Linked DNA regions of Homo sapiens: region 1 is linked to region 2. Evidence: fine-mapped expression QTL. A gene starts in region 2. The other region holds a variant in brackets. All regions are shown on one strand. Distances are between the middles of the regions.

The links.
Region 1: its variant is fine-mapped to the expression of METTL16 in whole blood (INTERVAL, PIP 0.99).

Annotation. Positions count from the first base shown.
Region 1 is chr17:2,416,023-2,427,772 of GRCh38, forward strand. METTL16 (methyltransferase 16, RNA N6-adenosine) reads right to left here. Exons shown (of 10, transcript NM_024086.4): 9 at 4,709-4,882; 10 at 27-4,574. The coding sequence ends at 3,948. Among named protein-coding and RNA genes, the nearest start is that of MNT, 21 kb to the left of the region's middle. The variant A/G (reference allele first, on the strand shown) is at 5,729.
Region 2 is chr17:2,503,404-2,520,023 of GRCh38, forward strand. It overlaps METTL16 (methyltransferase 16, RNA N6-adenosine), which reads right to left and starts at 8,485. Exons shown (of 10, transcript NM_024086.4): 1 at 8,356-8,485. RefSeq lists enhancers at 2,541-3,452, 3,453-4,363, 8,356-8,565, 8,636-8,685.

The sequences.
Region 1 (11,750 bases), 90 kb before region 2:
ACCAGGTAAAGAGACCATGGCTAGTGTTTTTTTCTCTTTCTACTTTTATTTTTCAAATTTTATTTCTGTGAAAATGTATTTGTTTACATAAAAATACAAATCTGGGTAGCAACTGGGTATTTCAAGAAAACACCGTGGACAGACTTGTCTCCATTCCCACGGGGAAGTGAAGGCGCTTTGATAAAAGGGCCAAGGGTGCCCTCGTGTGGCCACGGAGGGAAATGCCGCGGCTTCAGCAGAAAGGAGGGGCTCCAGGAGCTGGTCGTGAAGTCATCAGCTCCCTTCTTTCAAAAGGCCTCGGATTTCCCACAGGCTTTTCCATCTTTTCCACTCCTTGCAGTTTTGTTATTCCTGTCACAACTTAGAAGTTCGAGTGCTCACATGGTAAGCTTTGATTTCCATCGAGAGGAAAGGCTTTATGTTTTATAAAAAATATATACTAAAGTAATCTACACGAAGCTTAGGATGAGTTGAAAGGGTACTGCCAAAACGCGGCCCTGCCCAGGACACACAGCAGAGGTCTGGAGTGGGGACAGTGCGGCCAGCATGTGTGGGGAAGGAAGCAGGCTGACGGAGGCAAAGCAGATTCCGAAGAACAAAAGCAGCTTTAGTTTGCCTGGGCAACAGGCTCAACTTCTGTCTCCACTTCAGTTATCAGGAGACCAGAAGCCGATTCTAGGGACCAGAAGAGAATGTAGGGTCACATCACCAAGATTTAATTTCATACCAACCCCGCAACATGAATGTGACCTCTGGACACCGGGAGAGTAACACTCAAGGTTATGACATATGAGTCAATAACCCATTTCTTCAAAGAAAAACTTGCCCACCTGTACCAGAGGTATATGCTATGAAACAACACACAATTATAAAGCATATGCATGACCAAAACAATGCTTAGATGTCCTTTAAAAATATTTTCAATGTTCTCTCACTAGGTAGCCTAAGAAAATCTTCTCAGGGAAGGAAATGGAAACATCCAAATGCACAGAAGGCACTCGGCTCCAGACTGAAAGCTGGCCTGCTCATGGGTTCCTTTTTTTTTTTTTTTTTTTTTTTTTTTGAGACAGTCCCACTTTGTCGCCCAGGCTGTAGTGCAGTGGCATTCTCGGCTCACTGCAACCTCCACCTCCCAGGTTCAAGCGAGTCTCCTGCCTCAGCCTCCCGAGTAGCTGGGATTACAGGCACGTGCTATCATGCCCGGCTAATTTTTGTATTTTGAGTAGAGACGGGGTTTCGCCATGTTGGCCAGGCTGGTCTCAAACTCCCGACCTCATGCGATGCGCCCATCTCAGCCTCACAGTGCTGGGATTACAGGCGTGAGCCACTGCGCCTGGCCACGGTCACGGATTTTTTAAAACTCTAAGGTCATTAGCTTGACATCTATAAAATCTCCTCCATGACATGAAGCCTTAAACCTAGGGACAGAAACACACTGAGACACAGAAACACCTTCTGTGCTTCAATACACAGAGCATTCTCTGGAAATCCCTACGACACAGGCTTAAAGGCCAGTGCTGTGCCTGAAAGACATTTTGAACAGGCAAGGAGTGTAAGCTAATACACTACTGTTACAACATGGACAAATACTTGTAAGATGTTAAATGAACAAAGGACCAGAATACAAAACTGAATACGCAGCATGAGGACAACCAAAGTTAAACCCACACACTCACACACCCCGTCTACAGAGAGACTAGAAAGGAACACGCCAATGCCAAGAGTGGTTATGTTACAGAAGGTTGGGACTCGGGGTGATTTTGTTGTTTTGACTTTCATTTTTCCAAATCTTTAATGAGCATGTGCCACTCTTTCATAATGAAACAAGCAAACAATAAGTACTTACTACTTACTGAATGAATAGTTGCCACTTAAACAATTATCCTAAAATTATACCAAGGAAACTAGGTTTGGGCCCAGCAAATGACTCAAATGTAATATTCACTCGAGGTAAGGACAGTGGGGTGGTGTGGGCTGGCACAGCAGAAAATTTCTAGACCAGGGGAATCCACGGTCCTGAATTGAGTCTTGGCTCTGTGTGACCCTGGGTATTGTTTTTTGCAGCCTGACACATGAATGCTTGGACTAGAATAATGATTCTTAATCCTTAGTGGGTTATTGACCCCTTTGTCTGTGTCTGAGGGTTCTGGGAACCCTCTCTCCAGGAAAAAAAATACACACACACACACACACACACACACATGCTCACAGAGCTTTTAGAAGTAACTCTAGGAGGTACATGGACTCTCTGGAGGTCCACGGACCAGGTTAAGAACACTGGTCAGAGGCTGGGAGTAGTGGCTCACGGCTGTAATCCCAGCACTTTGGGAGGCCAAGGTGGGCGGATCACCCGAGATCATGAGTTCGAGATTAGCCTGGCCAACATGGTGAAATCCCATCTCTACCAAAAACACAAAATTAGCCAGGCGTGGTGGCGCGTGCCTGTAATCCCAGCTACTTGGGAGGCTGAGGCAGGAGAATCGCTTGAACCCGGGAGGCGGGGGTTGCAGTGAGCTAAGATCGCACCACGGCACTCCAGCCTAGACAACAAGAGTAAAACTCCACCTCATAACAAACAATCAATCAAAAAGCCACTGGTCAGTATGCTGCCTTCTCCAGCTCCAGCTCCACAGCCAAGTTAAGGCACAGCAGTTCCGCTTCCTGTGTCTCTGCCGAGGGCCTGATCTAGCTGCTGCCAAGACATGCCAAGGTCACCAGCTTCCCGTCCTGACCAACAGCCACCTCTCAGAAGGCTGGCTTAACTACTCAGCCCCAGTCTTCTTAGCAGATGGCAAGGAGCTCTGGCCAAGATTTTAGTCTAAACAGAACCCTAGGCTGCTGATGCAACATCAAGCACAGCAAAAGGTCACCCCTTTCCGGGGGGACGGCTACTGAACCCTGGCATTCCAATTAGAAACGTGTTTCAAGGACACAGTTACTCCGGCCTCAGAACTCTCCAATGTGAGTAGGTAAGTACAGGGGGGATTACAAGTGAAGCCACAAAAAAACAGTATTTGATCAGCAACAAAATATCTGAGACTTTCTTAAGCTACCTACGGCACATACTATTTTGTTCTATTTCTCATTTCTATCATCAGCCGCTCACTCAGCTAACCCCAGGATTCAAATAGGACCGCTGGTTTTTAATTTGTGAATATTCTTATTTAAAAACAAAACAAGCTCTACTTCAGATGTCCAAACAAAAATCACACAGTAGTAAAACTGCTACAAAATGGTACTGTCAACAGGCTGGAGGTGGGGGTATGGGTGCCTTCTGTGTGCCTCAGTCACACCGGGGAGTTTTGCTTACCTAATTCTGCTTCTGAAATAAGCAACATCAAAACAGCCAGGTGTCAGGAATGTGCCATTTACCGGGTGGTCCCCAGACTCTGCTGCTCCTTCCCAGCATTACTAAGGTTTCTCTCCCAGATTCCCCACCACCCACCATACAGCTCCCTTTGTGGGATTGATGCAAGGTAGGCCCCATCTTGAAGAGTGACCTAGAACAGGGTACCAGGGCCTCCAGCTGGAGGCAGAGAGAGCCACCCCTCCTCAAGAAACACCCTTGGGTGACAGAGACAGCATGATATTCTAGGCAGTGCTGCCCAGCCCAGACTCCACAAACAACCCTTCTGACCTTGCAGAGGCAGTCCAGAGCTGAGGGGCCAGCTTGAGCCAGCTTGCAATCCCTCGGGAGTTTACTGAGGGCTTTCTGTTGTTACTGATGACCACAATTCCTCCTTGTAAATGACCACACTACGACTCCCTGTAACTCAAAAAGCGGGAAGGAGGCGGGGGGAGGTGGGGGACAGATTCATAGGTTTTTGTTTTCGAAGATAATTCCACATCGTGCTACTAATGGGCCGCTGGTAGGATTCCTCTTGCCACCCCACAGGCCACTCCAAAGCAAGTTACTATCAACACGTTTCCAACTGTGCAGGAGGTTTCTAGTTAACTGCAACAAGCCTGAAAATTTGGTTACGTATGTAGGTGCAAAGCTGGTTCATCAGATCCCTGTTCTGGCCCTCAACCCAGTGCATCTCCACTAAGGCATCGTCCACCTCCTTCTTAACGTTTATCAAACACTTAAACAGGTACTGTCCGGCCACTCCTGGGAGACGTTTCCCCCTTTCAGCCACTGGGCTGCCGAACTGCTCAGAAGCCTCTTGGTCCTGGGCTCCGTTGCTAGAGCCTTGACAACTTTCCAAAACCTCCACCCCTCCCTTTTCCTCACTCCTTTCATCCTCCGTGGGTTCCGGGTTTTCCTCCTGGGACAGGGACTCCTGGCTCGGGCACGGGCCCTCCACAGCGGCAGCCTCGCCTTCCCGCAGAGCAGGCCCACAGGGGGTCCTCTCCTGGGGGCCCCTGGCCAGTTCTTGGCTATTGCCAGACTCTTTGGGGGTGGGCTTTTTCTCTTCCAAGGCCTGAATGACGTCCTCAGGAGCTCGGGGAACTTCTCTCAGCTGTCTCACACGCTCTCTTTTCTTTCTCCTTAAATGAATCCAGGAGTTTTCTATGGCCGTTAGGAAAAGGCTGACTTCCTCTTTTCCACAGGGAACTCGTTTATGCTGGACCTGTTTGGAGGAAAAACAGAATTTTGTGGGAAATCACGTTTCCCCTCTCTCCAAACTCTCAATAAAAAAAAAAAGAAAAAAGAAAAAAGAGAAGGATCATTATGAGTACTTCGTCAATATGGTTAAGCAGGTACCTTCAAATCAGTGAGAATTTTTTCAATCCATGTCGTGACAACGACTATGCCTTCCGCCGTCTCCGAGCGCAGAGGTGATGCTTTGAGGGATAATTCCTTCATCACGGACGCCAGCACCACGAATGTTATGGGTTTTCTCGGTTTCTCTAATTTTCTTCGCTTACTTGGTGGTGACTGCAAGAAAAAGGAAGCATAGAAAAGAGAAGAAAGTTATCCGAATAATTAAACCTCATGCATTGTAATGAACTCAGAGAAAATTTCCACAACTTCTGCTACCAATCATAGAGCACTGAAAACACAAAGGGTTTTGTGTGTGTTATGTCCAGCACTTAAAACAACCCTGCAAGGTGCAGTCATTCACGCCTATAATCCCAGCACTTTGGGGGGCCATGGCAGGAGCATCACTTGAGCCCAGGAGTTTGAGATCAGCCCCAGCAACATAGTAAGACCTCCATCTCTAAAAAAACGTTTAAAACTAGTCAGCCACAATGGTGTATGCCTGTGGTCCCGGCTACTCTGAAAGCAGAGGAGGGAGGATCATTTGAGCCCAAGACTTCCAGGCTGCAGGGAGCTCTGATTGCGCCACCGCAATCTAGCCCAGGAAACGGGGTGAGACCCTGTCTCTTAAGAAAAAAAAAATTTTTAATTAAAAAAATAAGAACCCCACAAGATAGTTTAGGCATCTCCAGGAAAACGAAGATACAGAAAGGCTATGTCACACAGCTCAAGGTCACACAGTAACTGCAGTTAGGACTGAACGCCGAACCCACGTTCTTTCCAGCCGCACCGCACTGCCTTTGTTCTGGCTATCAGATGTAACTCCTCCAACTGCTAAACGTCCTTCGTGTACCTGTGGTACCCAAAGCAGACCTGCACAATTATTTATTTCATGACAACTCGAGGACCCTGGGGGCACTGTGTTCTTGGCTGGAAAGAACTGCAGGGCAGAAACATCATCAACTTGTAGTTTGAGTTTATATTGGCTGAGGCTTGAGATAAAGCAGCCGGTGAACCACAGCC[A/G]TGAGATGACATGCGAGGAAGGATCAGGGCCACTAAGATCACGTGGGCAGAGGAGGAGGACTCCTGAATCGTGGCTGATGTCGGGACCAAGCCGGCGGCGAGCTAAGCACTGCCTTTTAGCTGGGGAGGGTGACACCGGCGCTGATGAGAAGACTGGATTTCAAAGCTGGTTCCAAGAAAATCACGACTGGCATCTTCCATTCTATCTCAAGCTGGGAAGGTGAATTATACCCTACCCACTAGAGGGACTCAAGTTCCACTTTAAAAACCAATGGCACCTGCCGGGCGCGGTGGCTCATGCTTGTAATCCTAGCACTCTGGGAGGCCGAAGCAGGCAGATCACTTGAGGTCAGGAGTTCAAGACCATCCTGGCCCACATGGTGAAACCCCGTCTCTACCAAAAATACAAAAATTAGCTGGGCATGGGGGCACGCACCTATAATCCCAGCTACTCGGGAGGCTGAGGCAGAAGAATTGCTTGAACCCAGGAGCCAAAGGTTGCAGTGAGCCAAAGGTTGCAGTGAGCCGAGATTGTGCCACTGCACTCCAGTCTGGGCCTGGGCAACAAGAGTGAAACTCCGTTTTAGAAAAAAAAAAAAACAAAACCAATGCCACCACTGTATTGAAAATTTATTTATTCATTTATTTATTTTTGAGATGGAATCTCACTCTGTCACTGGAGTGCAATGGCGCCATCTCGGCTCACTGCAACCTCCACCTCCGGTTTCAAGCGATTCTCCTGCCTCAGCCTCCCAAGTACCTGGGACTACGTCACCAAGCCCAGCCAATTTTTGTATTTTTAGTAGAGACGGGGTTTCACCATGTTGGCCAGGATGGTCTCGATCTCTTGACCTCGTGATCCACCCACCTCGGCCTCTCAAAGTGCTGGGATTACAAGTGTGAGCCACCGTGTCCAGCCTGAGAATTTCTTTCTTTAAAGTAGAAACTTTAGGCTGGGTGTGGTGGCTTATGCCTGTAATCCCAGCACTTTCGGAGGCCGAGGCGGCCGGATGGATTGAGCTCAGGAGTTTGAGACCAGCCTGGCCAACATGGTGAAACCCCATCTCTAGTAAAAATACAAAAATTAGCCGGGTGTGGTGGCCGCGCCTGTAATTCCAGCTACTCGGGAGGCTGAGGCAGGAGAATCACTTGAACCCAGGAGGTGCAGGTTGCAGTGAGATGAGATTGCGCCACTGCACTCCAGCCTGGAGACAGAAGGAGACTGTGTCTCAAAAACAACAACAACAAAAAGGATAAAAAAGAAAAAACACCAAGTCAGGTTTGAAGATCTTTTTCTGCTAAAAGGAATCTGACGACTGCTACTGATCATTCCAGTCGTACCTGGCCACACTGACAGCGCACACGCACACATGCAGACACCACAGGTTCTGATTACTGGGGGACGTCTTCTAATAAGAACTAACCAGCGGCCTCACACTGCATACATACACAACAACCTAACCAGTTTATTCTATACTAGGAAACTGTTAGGGAAGGATAAAAAACAAAGGGTGTGTGTGTGTGTGTGTGTGTGTGTGTGTGTGTGTGTGTGTTTGAAGAACCTGCTCTTGAGAAATGAATAGTGGACTCTAAGACCTGTCTGAACCTGAACTTGTTCAATTATGTTTCAGACAAGATGAGACAAATTCATATTGACATTAAGACAGTCATATTGTTATTACTCAATCATCCTGCATGAGAAACATAATTTCTAGTCTACTGAGAGCCTAACGCTTTGCAGTAAGGAGCTTACAATAAGCGTATTAAGCTGGGGAAGAAGCGTATTAAGCCGGTGTGTGGGAGGATGATGGGGGTGGAGAATCAGACTCCCCATTCCCCGTCCCAACATCAAAGGCCATGACCATGGAGAGCTCACTGCAACCTGGCCCTCCCTGCCAGCCCGCCCTGTACAGCAAAGGTCACCTACAAGCATGGCTAAAAGGGCAGCACTTCCCATCTCTTCTCACAGAAGGAGTGATCATTTTGCTCACAAATTCTGACCAGTAAAGTCAGGATATTGCTGTTTCTCATTATGCTAAAGCTGACCTGCGACACTCTTTCTCCAAAAGTAAGGACGGGCTTCATCATTTCTAGAGATTAAAATAAGAAAATACATCTTTACCAACCTGACAAGAACTCTATCAGGGATACTTTCAGAGTTCTGAGGAAGTCAGAAATCACAAAATCGACAACTTATTACCCAGTTATCTCAGGACTAAAATGAAAACTTCCCTCTCTCAAATATGGCTCCTTCACCTGCATCCTGACCCAACTTTCCCATATACAATGGTCAGTCAACAAACTTGATATTCCTGAAGATTTTTTAAAAAATTTTCCTTTTATTTTATTTTATTTTATTTTATTATTTTATTTTTTTTTTTGAGACGGAGTCTCGCTCTGTCGCCCAGGCTGGAGTGCAGTGGCGGGATCTCGGCTCACTGCAAGCTCCGCCTCCCGGGTTCACGCCATTCTCCTGCCTCAGCCTCCCAAGTAGCTGGGACTACAGGCGCCCGCCACTACGCCCGGCTAATTTTTTGTATTTTTAGTAGAGACGGGGTTTCACCGTTTTAGCCGGGATGGTCTCGATCTCCTGACCTCGTGATCCGCCCGCCTCGGCCTCCCAAAGTGCTGGGATTACAGGCGTGAGCCACCGCGCCCGGCCTTATTTTTATTTTTTAAATAGAGAAGGGTCTTGCTATATTGATTGCCCAGGCTGGTCTGGAACTCATAGGCTGAAGCTCTCCATCTGCCTCAGCCTCCCAAAGTGTTCGGACTCCAGGCCTGAGCCACTGCGCCAGCTGCATTCGGAAGATTTCTAATGAACTGCTCTAGCACACACATGCACACACATCATCTCAGGACGGTCTTCAATTTGGCTTTGCTCTACTATAGAAACTAGACATTAAGAGACAGACAGGCCAGGCGCAGTGGCTCACGCCTGTAATCCCAGCATTTTGGGAGGCTGAGGTGGGTGGATCACAAGGTCGGGAGATTGAGACCATCCTGGACAATATGGTGAAATCCCATCTCTACTAAAAATACAAAAAATTAGCCAGGCGTGGCGGCACACGCCTGTAGTCCCAGCTACTTGGGAGGCTGAGGTGGGAGAATGGCGTGAACCCGGGAGGCGGACCTTGCAGCGAGCAGAGATCGCGCCACTGCACTCCAGCCTCGGTGACAGAGCGAGACTCCGTCTCAAAAAAAAAAAAAAAGACAGATAATTCATACTCCAGGAGTTCTCAGGCAAGGCTTTTAAATGATGAAAGATTAACTGAAGTATGGCTCACAGCAGTTGTTCAGTCCCCTCTTATTTATCATGAAAAGTCCTCGTGGGCAGGGTCACAGTAAAATATAGGATCAAGTTCTAAGAAATTAATAGTTAAATTCAACACCACAGCTCTCTGGTCGTAGGCAATTTTTACATTTTGCTGCAAACACTAGTACATAGAAGCTGTCAGTTTTTCCCCAATTGAAATGATCTTATTTTGCTAATATCCTTATAATTGCAAAACACAAATATTTTAAATGAAGAGTGCTACACTCAAACTGTCATAATCTAGTTTAGCAGGCAAGGCGTACATAAATAATTCAACATTTTAAAGTCTACCCCAAAACCAATCATTTACAATGATTAATCCAGTTTAATGCAAAGAACTAGGTGAATTTACAGCTGATTTTGGATTTGAAGATGCACTGCTGGAATTACAATGTGAGAGAAGCCTGGTGAGCAGTCGTAGGTCTGCAGAGACCACAGGTTTTATATCTTTTGAATTCCAAGTAGTCAAGGAATGATCATCAATAAGAGAGGAACTGCAAGCGTTAAAAACACATTAGATCACAGAAGCCATCAATCAGGCACAAACAAACAAACAAACAAAAAACCAGTTCTTAAATTTTAAAATATGCTACGTAGCAGGGTGGTCTACAAATTTCTTTTCTTGTCTTTTTTTTTTTGAGACAGGGTCATGCTCTGGCACCCAGGCTGGAGTGCAGTGGCGCAATTACGGCTCAGTGCAGCCTCCACCTCCTAGGCTCAAGTGATCCTCCCACCTCAGTCTTCTGAGTAGCAGGGACTATAGGTGTGTGCCACCATGCCTAGCTAATTTTTGTATTTTTTGTAGAGATGGGGTTCTGCCATGTCGCCCAGACTGGTACAAATTTGAATCTTCACTTTAATTTCTAAATCTCAATGATGCCATCAGCCAAGAAACTTTCACATGTGGTGTAGCTTGACACAGATCAGTGTAGCATGTTATGTCTCCGTTAATTATGGCTAAGGCAAAAAAAAAAAAAAAAAGCCACAGGCTGAATGAAATCATTAAATTCTCTCTAGTATTTGCAGGAAGAGAAGAGCCATTCTACAGAGAAATCTGGTGCGCACGAAGCCACAACCTCTTTGTTTTGGCAAAGCAGCTTCTAGAAAAACCTCAAGTGGAAAGGGGACAGGGCAGAGAGGAGACCCCAGTGCAGTGGCCGTCTGTTTTTTAAAAGAGATAGGGAGTTACAATGTTGCCCAGGCTGGCCTTGAACTCCTGTGCGCAGGTGATTCTCTCACTTCAGCCTCCCAAGTAGCTGCAACTACAGGTGCACATCACCACACCCAGCCCATTTCTTTCATCTTAATCTGACAGGTCGTTGTTTAAAATGTCCTGAAATCACCCCCAGGAGTACGTAAAAACAGTAAAAAGTAAAAATAGCAGCCGGGTGCCATGGCTCACGCCTGTAATCCCAGCACTTTGGGAGGCTGAGGCAGGTAGATCACAAGGTCAGGAGATCAAGACTAGCCTGGCCAACATGGTGAAACCCCATCTCTACTAAAAATATAAAAATTAGTTGGGCATGGTGGCACGTGTCTATAATCCCAGCTACTCGGCAGGCTGAGGCAGGAGAATTGCTCGAACCAGGGAGTCGGAGGTTGCAGTGAGCCGAGATCACGCCACTGGACTCCAACCTGGGTGACAGAGCAAGACTCCGTCTCAAAAAAAAAAAAAAAAAAAAAAAAGTAAAAATAGCAAGGGGAAGAAAACTATTGCAGAATGCTACCTATTTAAGAAGGAATGATTATAAATACATACGTGTATTTCTTTGAATTTGAAAAAATGGGTCAGGCACGGTGGCTCATGCCTGCAATCCCAGCACTTTTGGAGGCCAAGGCAGGCAGATCACTTGAGGTCAGTAGTTCCAGACCAGCCTGGCCAACATGGTGAAACCCCATCTCTACTAAAAATACGAAAAAAAAAAAAAGAGCCGGGCATGGAGGCATACACCTGTAATCCCAGCTGCTCGGAAGACTGAGGCAGGAGAATAATAGCTTGAACCCAGGAGGCAGGGCCTGCAGTGAGCCGACATCGTGCCACAGCACTCCAGCCTGGGCAACGGAGCAAGACCCTGGCTCAAAAATATAAATACAAATAAAGGAATGATAAATTATAAAACTGTTTAAATAGTAACCCATGAAGAAGTAAAGGATTAGGGTGAATGAGATAGAAGAAAGAAGTCAGACTTCTGACCATTCTTTTGAGATTTTTTTCATTTCACAGGTAGAGAAATAAGAAATATATTTTATTACAAAACAAAACTAACAACAAAAAAGGCACTCCCTAAAAATCTGAAGATGATGAAACAAACGAACCTCTGTCCTGACTCCATGCAGAAAATTCAGAGTGGAAACGTTCCAAATGACTTTGAAATCCATCATGAGAGTCTCCAAGGACAAAAAAGAATTGTAAAAGTAAAAAAGTAGCTATTTTCAGAAATCACTTTGTTGATGGTAATGTTACTTTTGAGACTCCTGGGGCATATTGTGAGATAAAGTTAATGAGTAATATGTTGGCTGAGGACTGGAGTTTTTGGCATGGGATTCTTTTATTTTTTTAAGAGATAGGGTCTTCTGTGTTGCCCAGGCTGGCCTCAAACACCTGAGCTCAAGTGATCCCCCCGCCTCAGCCTCCTGAGTAGCTAGGATTACAGGCGTGCACCACCGCAGTCACAGGATTTTTGAATGGGAGATACAGATGGACAA
Region 2 (16,620 bases):
CAACAAAATACGGTATATCCATACACTAAATATGGGTCAACAAAATACAGTATATCCATACAATAAATATGGGTCAACAAAATACGGTATATCCATACACTAAATATGGGTCAACAAAATACAGTATATCCATAAAATAAATATGGGTCAATGAAATACAGTATATCCATACACTAAATATGGATCAACAAAATACAGTAATCCATACAATAAATATAGATTAACAAAACATGGTATATCCATACAATAAATATGGATCAACAAAAGATGGTATATCCATACAATAAATATGGATCAACAAAATATGGTATATCCATACAATAAATATGGATAAACAAAATACAGTATATCCATACAATAAATATGGATAAACAAAACATGGTATATCCATACAGTAAATATGGATCAACAAAATACGGTATATCCACACACTAAATATGGATCAACAAAATACGGTATATCCACACACTAAATATGGATCAACAAAATACGGTATATCCATACAATAAATATGGATCAACAAAATACGATATACCCATACAATACATATGATCAACAAAATATGGTATATCCATACAATAAATATGGATCAAGAAAATACGGTATATACATACAATAAATATTATGCAGCCCTAAGAAGAAATGAAATTCTGATACATGCTACAACATGGAAGAACCCTGAAAACACCATGCTAAGGGAAATAAACCACACACAAAAGGACAAATATTGTATGCTTTCACTTATATGAGGCACCCAGTAGAGGTAAATTTATTACACAGATGGAGAGTGGAATAGAGGTGATGAGGAGCTGGGGAGGGAAGAATGAGGAGTTACTGTTTAATAGGTACAGAGTTTCACTTTGGAATGATGACAAAGTTCTGGAGATAGAGGTGATGGTTGCACAAGAGAATGAACACATTTAATGTCACTGAATGGTACACTTAAAAATGGCTAAAATGGTAAATTTTATGTTATGTATATTTTTCCATGATTTTAAAAATGCAGACAACGTAAGAGTGAGTCTTTTTTTTTAAATCAAGGGAAGAAAGCTGAAAAGTATTCCTTTAAGAGCATCAAAGTGACAGAACACAGTCTGTATATATGATCTATAACCAAGGATATTAGTTAGAGGTTAGTTGTGTTTTGTTTTGTCTTGTTTTGTTTGTTCTGAGACAGTGTCTCACTCTGTCATCCAGGATGGAGTGCAGTAGCACAATCATACCTCACTGCAGCCTCAATCTCCCATGCTCAAACAGTCCTTCCACCTCAGCCTCCCGAGTAGCTGGGACTATAGGTATGTGCCACCATGCCACCACGCCTGGCTAATTTATTTTTAATTTTATTTTTTGTAGAGACAGGGTCTCCCTTTGTTGCCCAGATTGGTTTCCGACTCCTGAGCTCAAGTGATCCTCCTGCCTCAGCCTCCCAAAGTGCTACGACTACAGACATGAACCATCACACCCAGCTTGGGGGTTAGTTTTTACAGTATCCTTACAAGGACTGAATATTTGGTAGTGTACCATAACATCACCAAACTTTGAAAAAATATCTTTGATTCCAACTTAAAGTTTCAATCTTGTCATTCCTAGGTAGCTAAAACCAAATGAAAACGAACATAATTTTGTCTTCTTCCAGATTACAACAAGAAATAAAAGCAAATGTACTTATATCAAGACATAAACACTGAAAGAGAAACTATTATAATGGTTTAGTAAATCTCCAGGTAGTTGGTAATTTAAAAAATATTTTACTATTATATATATATATATCTCTCTCTGGGTGGCAAGTGACTTTTATTTTCTTAATATCTTTATTTTTTACCTTTTAAATAATGATTATTCTTCTAAACAATATTATGTTAGCCAAAAATCTAGGAGTCAGTTGATAGTTTCTCATATCCAAGAAATCACCACTTCTGTAGGTTTTACCTGCTAAATACCTCTTAAATCCACTCTTTTTCCCTGTCCCCAACAATGTCAAGCCCAGAGGCATTTTTTTTTTTTTTTTTTTTTTTTTTTTTTTTTTTTAGATACATGGTTTCGTTATGTTGGCCAGGTTGGTATTGAACTCCTGGCCTCAAGCAATCCTGCCACCTCAGCCTCCCAAAGTGCTAGGATTATAGTTGTAAGCCACCACGCCCGGCCAGAACAGCCTTTTTATTTACTTACTTTTATTTCCTTAGAGACTACATTGCCCAGGCCAGACTTGAACTCCTGAGCTTAAGCAATCCTCCCACCTCGGGCTCCCAAATGGCTGAGACTACAGGTGTGCACCACCGCACCTGGTTTACAGTAGCCTCTTAATTGGTCTCCCTGCATCCACTCTTGTTCTCACCATCCCTCCTTCCACCTCGTAGTGATCATTTCCAAACACAAATCTCAGTATGTCCTTCTCCTATGTCCACCTGCTCAAAACCTTACTCTTAGGATAAAATAAAAAAACATCACTTCAGCCTACATGCAAGGCACTACATGACCTGGCCTTGCCTATCTTTTCACCATCAGTTTAAGTCACATGCCCTTGCTCTTTGTGTCCTTCTACCCTGACCACAGGACCTTTATGCAGGCTATTCTTTTTTTTTTGAGACAGAGTCTCCCTCTGTCACCAGGCTGGAGTGCAGTGGCGCAATCTTGGCTCACTGCAACGTCTGCCTCCCGGGTTCAAGCGATTCTCCTGCCTCAGCCTCCTATGCAGGTTATTCTTTTTATCTGTAACGTTTTTTCCTCCCTCTCTTCAGTCGGCAAATTCTTAGTCATTCTTGGGCTCACAGTTCAAGCACCTCTTCTTCAGGAAGATCTTTCCTTCCCTAATCTCCCCAGTTAAGACAAATCCTCTCCCTCTCCCTCCCCCTCCCCCTCCCTCTCCCTCTCCCCACGGTCTCCCTCTCCCTCTCCCTCTCCCCCTCTTGCCACGGTCTCCCTCTGATGCCGAGCCGAAGCTGAACTGTGCTGCTGCCATCTCGGCTCACTGCAACCTCCCTGCCTGATTCTCCTGCCTCAGCCTGCCGAGTGCCTGCGATTGCAGGCGCACGCCGCCACGCCTGACTGGTTTTCGTATTTTTTTGGTGGAGACGGGGTTTCGCTGTGTTGGCCGGGCTGGTCTCCAGCTCCTAACCGCGAGTGATCCGCCAGCCTCGGCCTCCCAAGGTGCCGGGATGGCAGACGGAGTTGCGTTCACTCAGTGCTCAATGGTGCCCAGGCTGGAGTGCAGTGGCGTAATCGCGGCTCGCTACAACCTCCACCTCCCAGCTGCCTGCCTTGGCCCCGCAAAGTGCCGAGATTGCAGCCTCTGCCCAGCCGCCACCCCGTCTGGGAAGTGAGGAGCGTCTCTGCCTGGCCGCCCATCATCTGGGATGTGAGGAGCCTCTCTGCCTGGCTGCCCAGTCTGGAAAGTGAGGAGCGTCTCTGCCCGGCCGCCATCCCATCTAGGAAGTGAGGAGCGTCTCTGCCCGGCCGCCCATCATCTGAGATGTGGGGAGCGCCTCTGCCCTGCCGCCCCGTCTGGGATGTGAGGAGCATCTCTGCCCGGCCGCCCCGTCTGAGAAGTGAGGAGACCCTCTGCCTGGCAACCGCCCCGTCGGAGAAGTGAGGAGCCCCTCCGCCCGGCAGCCACCCCGTCTGGGAAGTGAGGATCGTCTCCACCCGGCAGCCACCCCGTCCGGGAGGGAGGTGGGGGTCAGCCCCCCGCCTGGCCAGCCGCCCCGTCCAGGAGGTGAGGGGCACCTCTGCCCGGCCGCCCCTACTGCGAAGTGAGGAGCCCCTCTGCCCGGCCAGCCGCCCCGTCCGGGAAGGAGGTGAGGGGGTCAGCCCCCCGCCCGGCCAGCCGCCCCGACCGGGAGGTGAGGGGCGCCTCTGCCCGGCCGCCTCTACTGGGAAGAGAGGAGCCCCTCTGCCCGGCCAGCCACCCCATCCAGGAGGGAGGTGGGGGGGTCAGCCCCCCACCCAGCCAGCCACCCCGTCCGGGAGGGAGGTGGGGGGGTCAGCCCCCAGCCCGGCCAGCCGCCCCATCCGGGAGGTGAGGGGTGCCTCTGCCCGGCCGCCCCTACTGGGAAGTGAGGAGCCCCTCTGCCCGGACAGCCGCCCTGTCCGGGAGGGAGGTGGGGGGGTCAGCCCCCCGCCCGGCCAGCCGCCCCATCCGGGAGGTGAGGGGCGCCTCTGCCCGGCCGCCCCTACTGGGAAGTGAGGAGCCCCTCTGCCCGGCCACCACCCCGTCTGGGTGGTGTACCCAACAGCTCATTGAGAATGGGCCATGATGACAATGGCGGTTTTGTGGAATAGAAAAGGGGGAAAGGTGGGGAAAAGATTGAGAAATCGGATGGTTGCCGTGGCTGTGTAGAAAGAGGTAGACATGGGAGACTTTTCATTTTGTTCTGTACTAAGAAAAATTCTTCTGCCTTGGGATCCTGTTGATCTGTGACCTTACCCCCAACCCTGTGCTCTCTGAAATATGTGCTGTGTCCACTCAGGGTTGAATGGATGAAGGGTGGTGCAAGATATGCTTTGTTAAACAGATGCTTGAAGGCAGCATGCTCCTTAAGAGTCATCACCACTCCCTAATCTCAAGTACCCAGGGACACAAACACTGCGGAAGGCCGCAGGGTTCTCTGCCTAGGAAAACCAGAGACCTTTGTTCACTTGTTTATCTGCTGACCTTCCCTCCACTATTGTCCTGTGACCCTGCCAAATCCCCCTCTGCGAGAAACACCCAAGAATGATCAATAAAAAAAAAAAAAAAGACAAATCCTCTATTATAACATCTCCTAGCAATAAATATTTTTCTTTTGCAATCTTTGTTAGAGACATAATTTTACATAGTCATAAATCTGTCAATGCTATTTCAGATGGTTTTTTGACAGCTTCCTACACTGGAAATTAAACCAATTTCAGAAAAGAACTGTTGTCTTCATTCCAGACTTTTCCAAATCACATATCCAACTGCCTACCATATTTCTCACTTGAAGGGCTCAAAAATACATGTACAATATGTGCAAAATTAAATCACTTCTACCCACCCCAAACTGGTCCTTCTCATCTTCCCTATCTCACCAAATGCACTGCTATCTTTCTTGTGATAAACACATCAAAAATCTTCAACACCTTCTCCATGCTGCCTCCCCCATTCACAACACACCAGGTCCTGAATACTCCATCTCCCAATTATTTCTTGACCTTATCCCACTTTTCACCCTTCACAACACCACCTCTCTGGCCCAGGTCATTATCATGTCTTTCTTGGGTTGCTCTAAGAGTCTCAAACTGATCTCTTCATAAACACTCTTGCCCTCTACCAGCCACTTTTCACTCAGCAGACAAGCCACTCCCCCCATGCAAATGTGAACATTTCCTTATTAAATCCCTTCAGTGGCATCCCAAAGCTATTAAGCTAAAAAAGTCTAAAATCATTAAAAAGGCAGGCATAATCCAGGCCTTATCTGTCCCTCCAACTTCATTTGTTGCCACTTTCCCCTTCCAGACATACTGGTCTTCTTCCATTTTCTCTGCTGCATGGTAGTCTGTCTCACCATCTCCTATTCTTACTGCCTGTAAGACTCTCCTCAACCTCCCACCATCGCCTTTCACCTCTGAAGGTCCACTAGCTACTCAAATCACACCCTAGGCATCATTTACTCAGGCAGCCTTTCTCTGACCCCACAATCCAATCAGATGCCCATCTACACGCTTTCAAAGCACCCTGTGCTGCTTCTCCCTCAGAGATCTTCAGTTTACTACTGGGTGTGTAATTAATTTGCATATGTCACACATAGACCTGCAACCATATCCATCCTAGTCTTTACTATACCCCCAGCAACCTGTATACAATAAATATTTTTTGAGTAAACAATTCAGAATTTGAGGGGATTAGTAGTCACCTGAAAGTTTTTCAGCATACTGTTACTACATTTTGCCCCTCACACTATGACTAAAAATGACTATATACCTGTCTTAATTTCCTAGCATTGACATACCCTTTACTGACCATCAGGAAAGAGGGGAGCATAAAACTAGGATGGCCCCCAGTTCTCAAGAAAACATCAACTGGGCAAGGTGGTGCATGCCTGTGTTCCTAGCTACTAGGGATGCCAAGGATAGCTTGAGCCCAGGAGTTCCAGTCCAGCCTGGGCCACACAGTGAGACCCTGTCTCAAAATAAACAAATACAAATAATAGACTTTATTAAAAAGAAAATATCCAAAATTAAAGTGTTGGCCGGGCACAGTCGCTCACGACTATAATCCCAACACTTTCGGAGGCCAAGACTGGAGGATCACCTGAGGTCAGGAGTTTGTGAGACCAGCCTGGCCAACATGGAGACCATCCTGGCCAACATAGTGAAACCCTATCTCTACTAAAAATACAAAAATTAGCTGGGTGTGGTGGCATGTGCCTGAAGTCCCAGCTACTTGGGAGGCTGAGGCAGGAGAATCACTTGAATTCAGGAGGCCGAAGTTGCAGTGAGCCAAGATCACGCCACTGCACTCCAGCCTGGTGACAGAGCAACACTCCGTCTCAAAAAAAAAAAAAAAATTAGCTGGGCGTGGTGGTGGGTGCCTGTAATCCCAGCTACTCGGGAGGCTGAGGCAGGAGAATCACTTGAACCCAGGAGGTGGAGGTTGCAGTGAGCCAAGATCGTGCTACTGCACTCCAGCCTTGGTGACAGTGAAACTGTCTCAAAAAAAAAAAAGAAAAAGAAAATGTTCTTTCTTGTGATTCTGGCAAGCAACAAAAAAAAGTAAACTAAGAGTAATTTCTTTAAACTGATGGAAAATATTTTCCCAATTTATGGGGGACATGTGACATTTATGCGGTATTTGTTCCACGCATAGAATGTGTGCTGATCAAGTCAGAGTATATGGGGTATTCACCACTTTGAGTATTTTTTATATCTATGTATTGGTAACATTTCAAGCCCTCTCCTAGCTATTTTGAAATATACATTGTTGCTGACTTTAGTCACCATATCCTAACAGTGACTTCAAGAGACAGTGGCATGTTAGGGCTCTGCCACACATTAAGGAAAATTCTACAGACTACATAGCTGACATCAGTGCACACACAACATAATACTCTGAATATATGTGAAACAAATTAAATTACAGACATGGCAGATTCGATTCATTTCCTACATTATTCAACTTTTCTGGTCAGAACAGATACAGAATGAGTAAATACAACCACTTCTTTTCTAACTAACCTCCCAATATAGGCAATGAGTTCTTAGCTAAATATAACCTATTCTTCAGAGTTTAACTGGGCATCAATTCTTTTTTTTTTCTTCTTGTTGAGACAAGGTCTTCCATTCTGTTGCCCAGAGTGCAATGATGGAATCATAGCTCCCTGCAGCCTCCAACTCCTGAGATCAAGCAATCCTCCCGCCTGAGCCTCCCAAGCAGCTGGGACTACAGGTACAGAGCACTGCACCTGGTTAATTTACTTCATTTTTTGTAGAAAGGGAGTCTGGCTTTGCTACCCAGGCTCTAGCTTCAATTTTCTACACAGAATTTACCCATCTGGCATTCCATATATTTTACTTACTTTAAAAAATCTCCCGTCAGTAAGTTTCAAGAGGGTAAATATTTTGTCTGTCTTGTTCACCGCATATCCCAACGCCTAAAATAGGGCCTAAGAGAGTAGGCACTCAAGTATTTGTTGATTGAAACCACGATAGAACTCTTCCCTGTCTGGACCACCGACACAAAGCACCCTCACTGAGTTTCAAAAAAAGCTCAGCCCATGGACTGGAACTTTTCTTCCCGGTTACTTGAGTCAGTCCAGAAAGCCACAGTTAATAGTAGAACCCTGAGAATGAGGCTTTCCCTTTTTTTTTTTTTCTTTCTCATCTCCATGCTTCTGTTTCCTTGGTTCCTCTTGACCATTAACCCTCTTCAACTACCACTCTCTTGATACACAGCCTGTAAAACAGTCTAAATTCCAATTTCAGAACTTCAAATTCTTTCTGCACAGATCCCTCCCACTTCCACACCAATCTACATCTTCTCTCTTCGCCTTCTCTCATAAATCCGACGTTTCCCACTAGTCCTGCCACTGCCGTTCTTTCCATGCCCTCATTTTATCAGCTCAGTTTGTCTTCCCGCCTCAGTTTTGGATCTCTCTAAACCTCCTAAACACCGGGGAGTCTTTCCTACTTCAGTCCTAGTCTCTATTCTATTCGCCAACTCCTCCCACTCATCCACTCTCAACACCCCCGCGTGCGCACACACAGCCACATCAGGTCTCCCCTCCTAGACCCCGAAGTCGGCACCTCACTAGCCCAAAACTCAAGAATGAGGAACCCGTGTGATCCACGGGTTAAGTGACCCATGATAGTAAATCTGCGTGAGAGATATAAGTGACCCACCTCTGAGGCCGAGGTTCCTGCCAGACGTCGTGTCTGGCGTGGGCCTGTACAACCCTAGAATCTTAAAGCAGCCGCATAGCGAAGCTCCTAGAAACGCAGATGATACGCTCCCAGCGCGCCGCCATCTTGTGAAGCCATCTAGCCTCGTGATTGGACACATCCCTCTCGCGCGACCTGTGGCTGATCTTGAAGAAAGAAGAAACCCTCGCGACACCTGGGGTTTGCTGCTCCTAACAGAAGGCGCGGGGGCGTGGTGACGAGCGGAGTCCTTTGAGGTATGGCAGGAGGAGGACATGCGTTCGAATTCGCGAGAAAACTTATTTAAAAGAAAAAGAAACAAGTTTTCCGGGCCCTGCTGCAGACTTACCTCTCACACTCACTGGGATTGGGCAGGTTATGAAGATGAGGGTACGAGACTTGGGTGTGATGGCGTGCAGTGAGCCCTTTTTGTGCAACAGGTGTGTCCTCAGCCGATGTCTCACTCACTGAATTGTAAGAGATATAAGCCTGTGGGTTGGGGAAGAGTACTCTCGTTTACAGCGAAAGAACTGAGGATCCGGCCGGACGCGGCGGCTCACGCTTGTAATCCCAGCACTTTGGGAGGCTGAGGCGGGCAGATCACCTGAGGTCAGGAGTTCAAGACCAGCCTGGACAACATGGTGAAACCCCGTCTCTACTAAAAATACAAAAATTAGCCGGGCGTGGTGGCGGGCGCCTGTAATCCCAGCTACTCGGGAGGCTGAGGCAGGAGAATCGCTTGAATCCGGGAAGCGGAGGTTGCAGTGAGCCAAGATCGCACCACTGCACTCCAGCCTGAGCGAAAGAGCAAGACTCTGTCTCAAAAAAAAAAAAAAAAGGGGGGGCCTGCCTACGTCCTCGTCGTTAATGTGAACGCTTCTGGCAAACTATTACCATAAAATTGGGAGATAGTAAGGATTAAGGAATGGAGACTTATACACAAGTGAGTACCAGTAGTCACCCAAGGAAAGCTGAGGAGGTGTTTTCATAATCTGTTGTGTAACAAACCGCCCCAAAACGTAAGACTTAAAACAACCACCATTTTACTTGCTCACAGTTCTGCAATCTGGGCTGGGATTAGCCCACCCGTTCTGCTGGTCTTGCCAGTGGTCATAGCAACAAGTGGGGGCTGGTTCCGCTGAAAGAACTGGGTCTCTCTCCCTGTAGTCCAAGTTCTCTCCCTGTCCACGTGGCCTTTCCATGTAATTTGTCTAGCAGAGTAGGATGACATTTTTTTTTTCCCCCGAGATGGAGTTTCTTATTGCCCAGGCTGGAGTGCAATGGCGCCATCTCGGCTCACTGCATGCAACCTCTGCCTCCTGGGTTCAAGCGATTTTCTTGCCTCAGCCTCCCAAGTAGCTGAGTAGCTGAGATTACAGGCGCCCGCCACCATGCCCAGCTAATTTTTTGTATTTTTAGTAGAGACGGGGTTTCATCCTGTTGGCCAGGCTGGTCTCAAACTCCTGACCTCAGATGATCCACCCGCCTCGGCCTCCCAAAGTACTGAGATTACAGGCATGAGCCATCGTGCCCCGCCAGAATACTTCTTACATGTTGGCTCGGGGCTCCCAAAAGGGCAAAAGTGGAAGCTGCCAGGCCTTCTTAAAGCGTAGGTGCAGAACTAGCACCTTGGCTATATTCTTGGTTAAAGCAAGTAGAAGGGCTAGCCCCAATTCAAGGGGAGGGGACTATGCCAGGGTCCCTTCCAATACTGGAAGGCATGGTTCATTTCAGCAACCAATGTAACATATTACCACAGAAAGTTTTCCATCTTTGGTTGGTAGTGGCTTTGATACTAGTTATGGCATTTTATTTAGTGCATGCTGCTGGAAAGGTAAAAGAAAAGATGGCCTCGGAGATAGGACTGGTGGGGTTGAAGTGATTGTATTTAAGATATTGGTAACTTTCTGTTAGCTCCAAAGAGCAACCCAGTTTACCTGTAGGTCGGGCCAGAGAGACCCTAGTAGCACTGCAGCTGGGAAACCTGGCCTTTAATCCTGCCCCCACCATTTACTAACCCTGTGAGTATGGGCAATTTGCTTAAACACTTGAAGGCTTAGTTTGCTCAATATTACAAAATAGGATAATAATCTCATGGGGTTGTGAGAATTAAATCAGATAATGCATATAAAACAGCAGAATGTCTAGTATATAGTGAGTTCCTAATAATAATAATATTGTTCCTTATAACTTCTCTGGTCAGTTTTTTTTAAGTATTCCATAAAGATAAAACATTTTAATAACTGAAAATTTTTAAATAATTTAAATAATACATAAAGATATCAGAAAGACAAAAATTATCTAAAATCTCACCACTCACAGCCAAGCACCATCAAATTTGGGTAACCTTACTACTAAACCTCTATATCTCATAAGGATATATAACCAAATAATTTTTATACAAATAATAATATATATTTGTATATATATGTAATTACATATATATACACACACACACATGCACATATACTCAAATATAACTCTTGGAGATTCTTCCACTTCCAACAATATAGCTCTTTATTGTTCTTTGTGATAGGTGCACAGTATTCCATTGAATGCATATAACACTTTTTTTTTTTTTTTTGAGACAGAGTCTCTCTGTCGCCCAGGCTGGAGTGCAGTGGCGTGATCTCGGCTCACTGCAACCTCCACCTCCTAGGTTCAAGCGATTCTTCTGCCTCAGCCTCCCGAGTAGCTGGGATTACAGGTGCCCACCACCACGCCTGGCTAATTTTTTTGTATTTTTAGTAGAGACAGGGTTTCACCATGTTGGCCAGGTTGGTCTCGAACTCCTGACTTCGTGATCCACTCGCCTCGGCCTCCCAGAGGGCTGGGATTATAGGCCTGGGCCACCGCACCCAGCTGGATATACCACTTTTTAAAAAACTAATTCGTGCCCAGGTTGGGTTGGCCAGACCTATAATCCCAGCACTCTGAGAGGCGAAGGCAGGTGGGTCACTTGAGGTCAGGAGTTTGAGACCAGCCTGGCCAACATAGTCAAACCCCGTCTCCATTAAAAATACAAAAATTAGCTGGGCGTGGTGGCGGGCACCTGCAATCCCAGCTACTCGGGAGGCTGAGGCAGGAAAATCGCTTAAACCCGGGAGGCAGAGGTTGCAGTGAGCCGAGATCGCGCCATTGCACTCCAGCCTGGGCAACAGAGTAAGACTCCATCTCAAAAACAAACAAACAAACAAACAAACAAACAACAACAAAAAAAAAACTAATTCCCCTGTGGATGGACATAGGTTCTTTCCAATGTATCTGGTATGACCTATTCCCAAATATTGTGGTACAATGATAAATACATATCCTTGAAAACTTTTTTATATAAAATGAAAATTATCTGGAGACTCCACAGAATAGATTAACAACATCTGCCTTTTTCCAAATTTACCCTGAAATGTCCAAGGATGTAATTGGTCAGAGAAGTCTCTCAAACTTCCATACCACAGCAAGGACAGTGCAGATGTCCAATTAGCCAGTTACATCCTTTGCTACCTCTTTGTAGCAGGAAACTGATTCTGCACATCCAGTGAATAATGCTGCTAATTATGAAATGTTGCCTAGCAAGTTATCAGAGCTGCTTTCAGCATCAGCTGCCTACTGGACTGGAATCAATCCTTGAGGGCATCAGACTGGACTCCCTCTTGACTGAAATTAATTATTTCAAGGACTTTGTGGCCCTTCCCTGTCACTGTCCTTTGGCCACAGCCAGCCTGTCAACAGCCACAGGTCTCTCTAACTTTGTATTTCAGAAAGTAATCATTGAGTATCAATTTCTTCTAGCTTAGAAGACTCTAGCTTCCTTATGTAAATGTATCCACCTCCTTCTTAGGGACCAAGTTTACATATCAGGGATCTAATAGCCATTATAGTTGTCACAAAAGCTATATCCAGGCAGGTGCAGTGGCTTACACCTGTAATCCCAGCACTTTCGGAGGCTGAGGAGGGTGGATCACCTGTGGTCATGAGTTCTAGACTAGCCTGGCCAACATGATGAAACCCCGTCTCTATTAAAAATACAAAAAATTAGTCAGGCGGGGTGGTAGATGGCTGTAATCCCAGCTACTTGGGAGGCTGAGGCAGGAGAATCACTTGAACCCAGGAGGCAGAGATTGCAGTGAACTGAGATCACGCCACTGCATTCCAGCCTGGGCAACAGCAAGAGTCCATGACAAAAAAAAAAAAAAAAAAAAAAAGATATCCTGTTACAGAACAATTATTTTTTCTCAGCTTACATTTACATAACTGAGAGAGCCACTGAAGTGATCCTCTGCACTAAGGATACCACATTTTCTTTTTCATTTCTTTACGGTTTTTGAGACAGGATCTCATTCTGTCACCCAGGCTGGAGTGTAGCGTCATGATCACAGCTCACTGTAGACTCGACTACCTGGGCTCTTGAATCCGGGAGGCAGAGGTTGCAGTTAGCCAAGATCACGCCATTGCACTCCCCCCTGGGCAACAGAGGGAGACTCCGTCTCAAAAAATAAAATAAATAAATGAATAATGATAGCTGGTGGAAGAACTGGATATAAATGTACATCTTACTACTGCCCTGCTTCCTGTTCCAAGTCTCATAAAACAGAACATACTCATTTTAAAAATTAAACAGTAAATTTCAAATCGAGCTGAAAATTCAGAATTAGTGTTATTGACACACCAGAAAATTTGAGGATACTCTGAAAAAATACAGGGTGAATAGGAAGACCATCTAAAATGCCAAGAAGTTTTATAGGAAGCTTAAGATGATTATAACATTTAGCTGGAAAACAAAATGTGCAAGAATAGCCAATAATGATGTTTTCCACTTGGAAAAAAATTAAAATTACACCATACATAAAATAATCCCATATGGATTAAGAAACAAAATAATCATAAAAACCAAAAAAAATTGACCAGGTACGATAGCTCATTCCTATAATCCCAGCACCTTGGAAGGCTGAGGCAGGTAGGTTCGCTTGAGCCCAGGAGTTTGAGCCCTGCCTAGGAAGCCAACATGGCAAAACCCCATTTCTACAAAAAATACAAAAATTAGCCGGGTGTGGTGGTGTGGGAAGCCAACATGGCAAAACCCCATTTCTACAAAAAATAAAAAAATTAGCCGGGTGTGGTGGTGTGGGAAGCCAACATGACAAAACCCCATTTCTACAAAAAATACAAAAATTAGCCGGGTGTGGTGGTGTGTGCCTATAGTCCCAGCTACTTGAGGGGCTGAGGCAGGAGGATTGCTTGAGCCGAAGAGGTCGAGGCCACAGTGAGCCATGTTCATGCCACTGCATTCCAACCTGGGTGACAAAGCGGGACCCTGTCTCAAAAAAAAAAAAAAAAAAAGGAAATCTATATCTACTGACACAGAAAATTTCCAAGATATGGAATAAGGTAAAAGGAAATTGTGAAACAGTAGGTTCAGTTTGATATTGTTTATATAAAGTAAAACCAGAACACATTTCAATATGAAAATATAAAGCATAAAAGTAGCCGTAGAAAAAGATCTGAAAGGAAAAACCCAGACTGAGAACAGCGTTACCTTAGGGAAACCTCAGGAAAACTGAGTTGGAATGTTAGAAGTGGGACATGAGAGTCTTTAATTTTGTCTATATCATTTGAATGTCTTACAATGATAATGGATTCATACATCATTTGTATGATTTAAAAAAAAATGATTTAAAATAAGAAAAAGAAGAGAAAATCAAATTTGTCAAAAAAAAAAAAAAAAAACCACACACACACACACAGCCTGACACTTATGCAGGAAAAGACAGTTTGGAGGGGAAGCAAAGCCTCCTGTGGCCTCAGCAGCTGCTCAGGACAGCCATCCTCCATGTGACGATTCTATGATCCACATAGCCACAGTCTGCGGCACCACCATGTCAACATGGGCTTCCAGGACCCCTGCAAAAAGGAGAGAGAGAGGATGGCTTTTCAGAGCTTCCACTCGGAAGTGAGACGCATCATTGACAACCAAATCAACTCAGATGTCCCCACCTAACTTGGGGTGGGGAAGAGGGCAGGCCTGCAGTCCCTCCATGTGCTCAAAATACTGCTGAAGAGTGATGGTGTTCACTACACACACCTCATCCACAAGCACCACAGACAGACAAAACAGAATCAAAATGTAGACGAATAGGGATTATACTCTAAAATGAGCAATTCCTCAAAAAATTAAAAATAGGATTACCCTGTGATCTGGCAATTCCACTTCTAGGTATATAGCCCCCAAAACTGAAGGCAGGATCTCGCCTACCATCACACCTGCCTAATTTTTTGTATTTTTAGTAGAGACGGGGTTTCACCGTGTTAGCTGGGATGGTCTTGATCTCCTGACCTTGTGATCCGCCTGCCTGGGCCTCCCAAAGTGCTGGGATTACAGGCGTGAGCCACCGCACCTGGCCTCCATGTCAGCCTCTTAAGTAGCTACGACTACAGGTGCACACCATCACATCCAGCGAATTAAAAAAAAAAAATTTTTTTTTTTTTTTTTTTTTTTAGAGACAGAGTCTTGCTATGTTGCCCAGGCTAGTCTTGAACTCTTGGCCTAGAGCGATCCTTCCTTCCAGCTGGGCCTCCCAAAATGCTGGGATTACAGATGTGAGCCACCACACCCAGCATGAATACCTTTTTTTTTTTTTTGAGATGGAGTCTCACTCTGTCACCCAGGCTGGAGAGCAGTGGCATGATCTCAGCTCACGGCAACCTCCGCCTCCTGGGTTCAAGCAATTCTCCTATCTCAGTCCTCTGAGTAGCCACCACACCTGGCTGATTTTTGTATTTTTAGTAGACACGGGTTTTTACCATGTTGGCCAGAGTGCTCTCCTGACCTCAGGTGATCCGCCTGCCTGCCTTGGCCTCCCAAAGTGCTGGGATTACAGGCATGAGCCACTGCGGCCGGCCCGCGTGAATACCATTTTTAACACATCGATTTGAATCGTCCTGTTGGTAATTCATGTACTTCCCACATATGCTTGAGTTTATTTCTAGACTTGTTTCATTGATCTGTCAGCTTATTTCTATACATGTACACATTTGTTTTAATTAGTGTAGCTTTCTATTACTATGCAGTATAATATAACATAAGGCCCCTATGTTAATCTTGTTTTTCAGAATTTGCCTGACTCACATGTCCATGCAATAAACTCCAGAACCATTTTATTAAGTTTTCTACAAAAATCCTTTTGGGATTTTTTTATTGTTATTACATTTTATATAGATAGATGAATTTTGAGAGGATTGGCATTTCTTCAATATTGACTCTCCTACTCATATTTAATAAGACTTCATCCTAGAATACAAGACCATTCACAGCAGTTCCAATCTACCTTTTCCTTCGGCGTTTAACTACCTTCCAGCCAAATTCACTATGATCTGGTCTCTGAACATATTCTGTGTTCTTTTCTGCATCTCTCTTCACCCAAACTAGTCTCTCTTTCTGAAACATCCTCCTCCTCTTCTTCCCACAGTTTCCTGGCCGGGCACGGTGGCTCATGCCTGTAATCCCAGCACTTTGGGAGGCCGAGGCAGGCAGATCATGAGGTCAGGAGATGGAGACCACCCTGGCTAATATGGTGAAATCCCGTCTCTACTAAAAATACAAAAAATTAGCTGGGCGTGGTGGTGCACGCCTGTAATCCCAGCTACTCGGGAGGCTGAGGCAGGAGAATCACTTGAACCCAGGAGGCAGAGGTTGCAGTGAGCCGAGATCATGCCACTGTGCCACTGTACTCCAGCCTGGGAAACAGAGTGAGACTCTGTCTCAAAAAAAAAAAAAAAAAAAAAAAAAATATATATATATATATATCCTCCTCCTCTTCTTCCCAGTTTCCTTTTTTTTTTTTTTTTTAATGAGACAGAGTCTCCTCTGTGGCCCAGGCTGGAATGTAGCAGTGCAATCTCAACTCACTGCAACCTCTGCCTCCCAGGCTCAAGTGATTCTCCTGCTTCAGCCTCCTGAGTAGCTAGCTGGGATTACAGGTGCCCGCCTCCCTGCCCGGCTTTTTTTTTTTTTTAAAGAGATGGGGTTTCACCATGTTGAACAGGCTCAAATTCCTGACCTGAAGTGATCTGCCCACCTTGGACCCCCAAAGTGCTGGAATTACAGGTGTGAGCCACCATGTCCAGCCTCCTTCCCACAATTTCTACTGTCCCACAGCCTACATATACTTTCATGTCTCATTACAAATTGCCACTTAACCCATAAAGCCTTCTTCATTCTTCCATCCAGATGTAACCTCTAGCTCCGTTGAA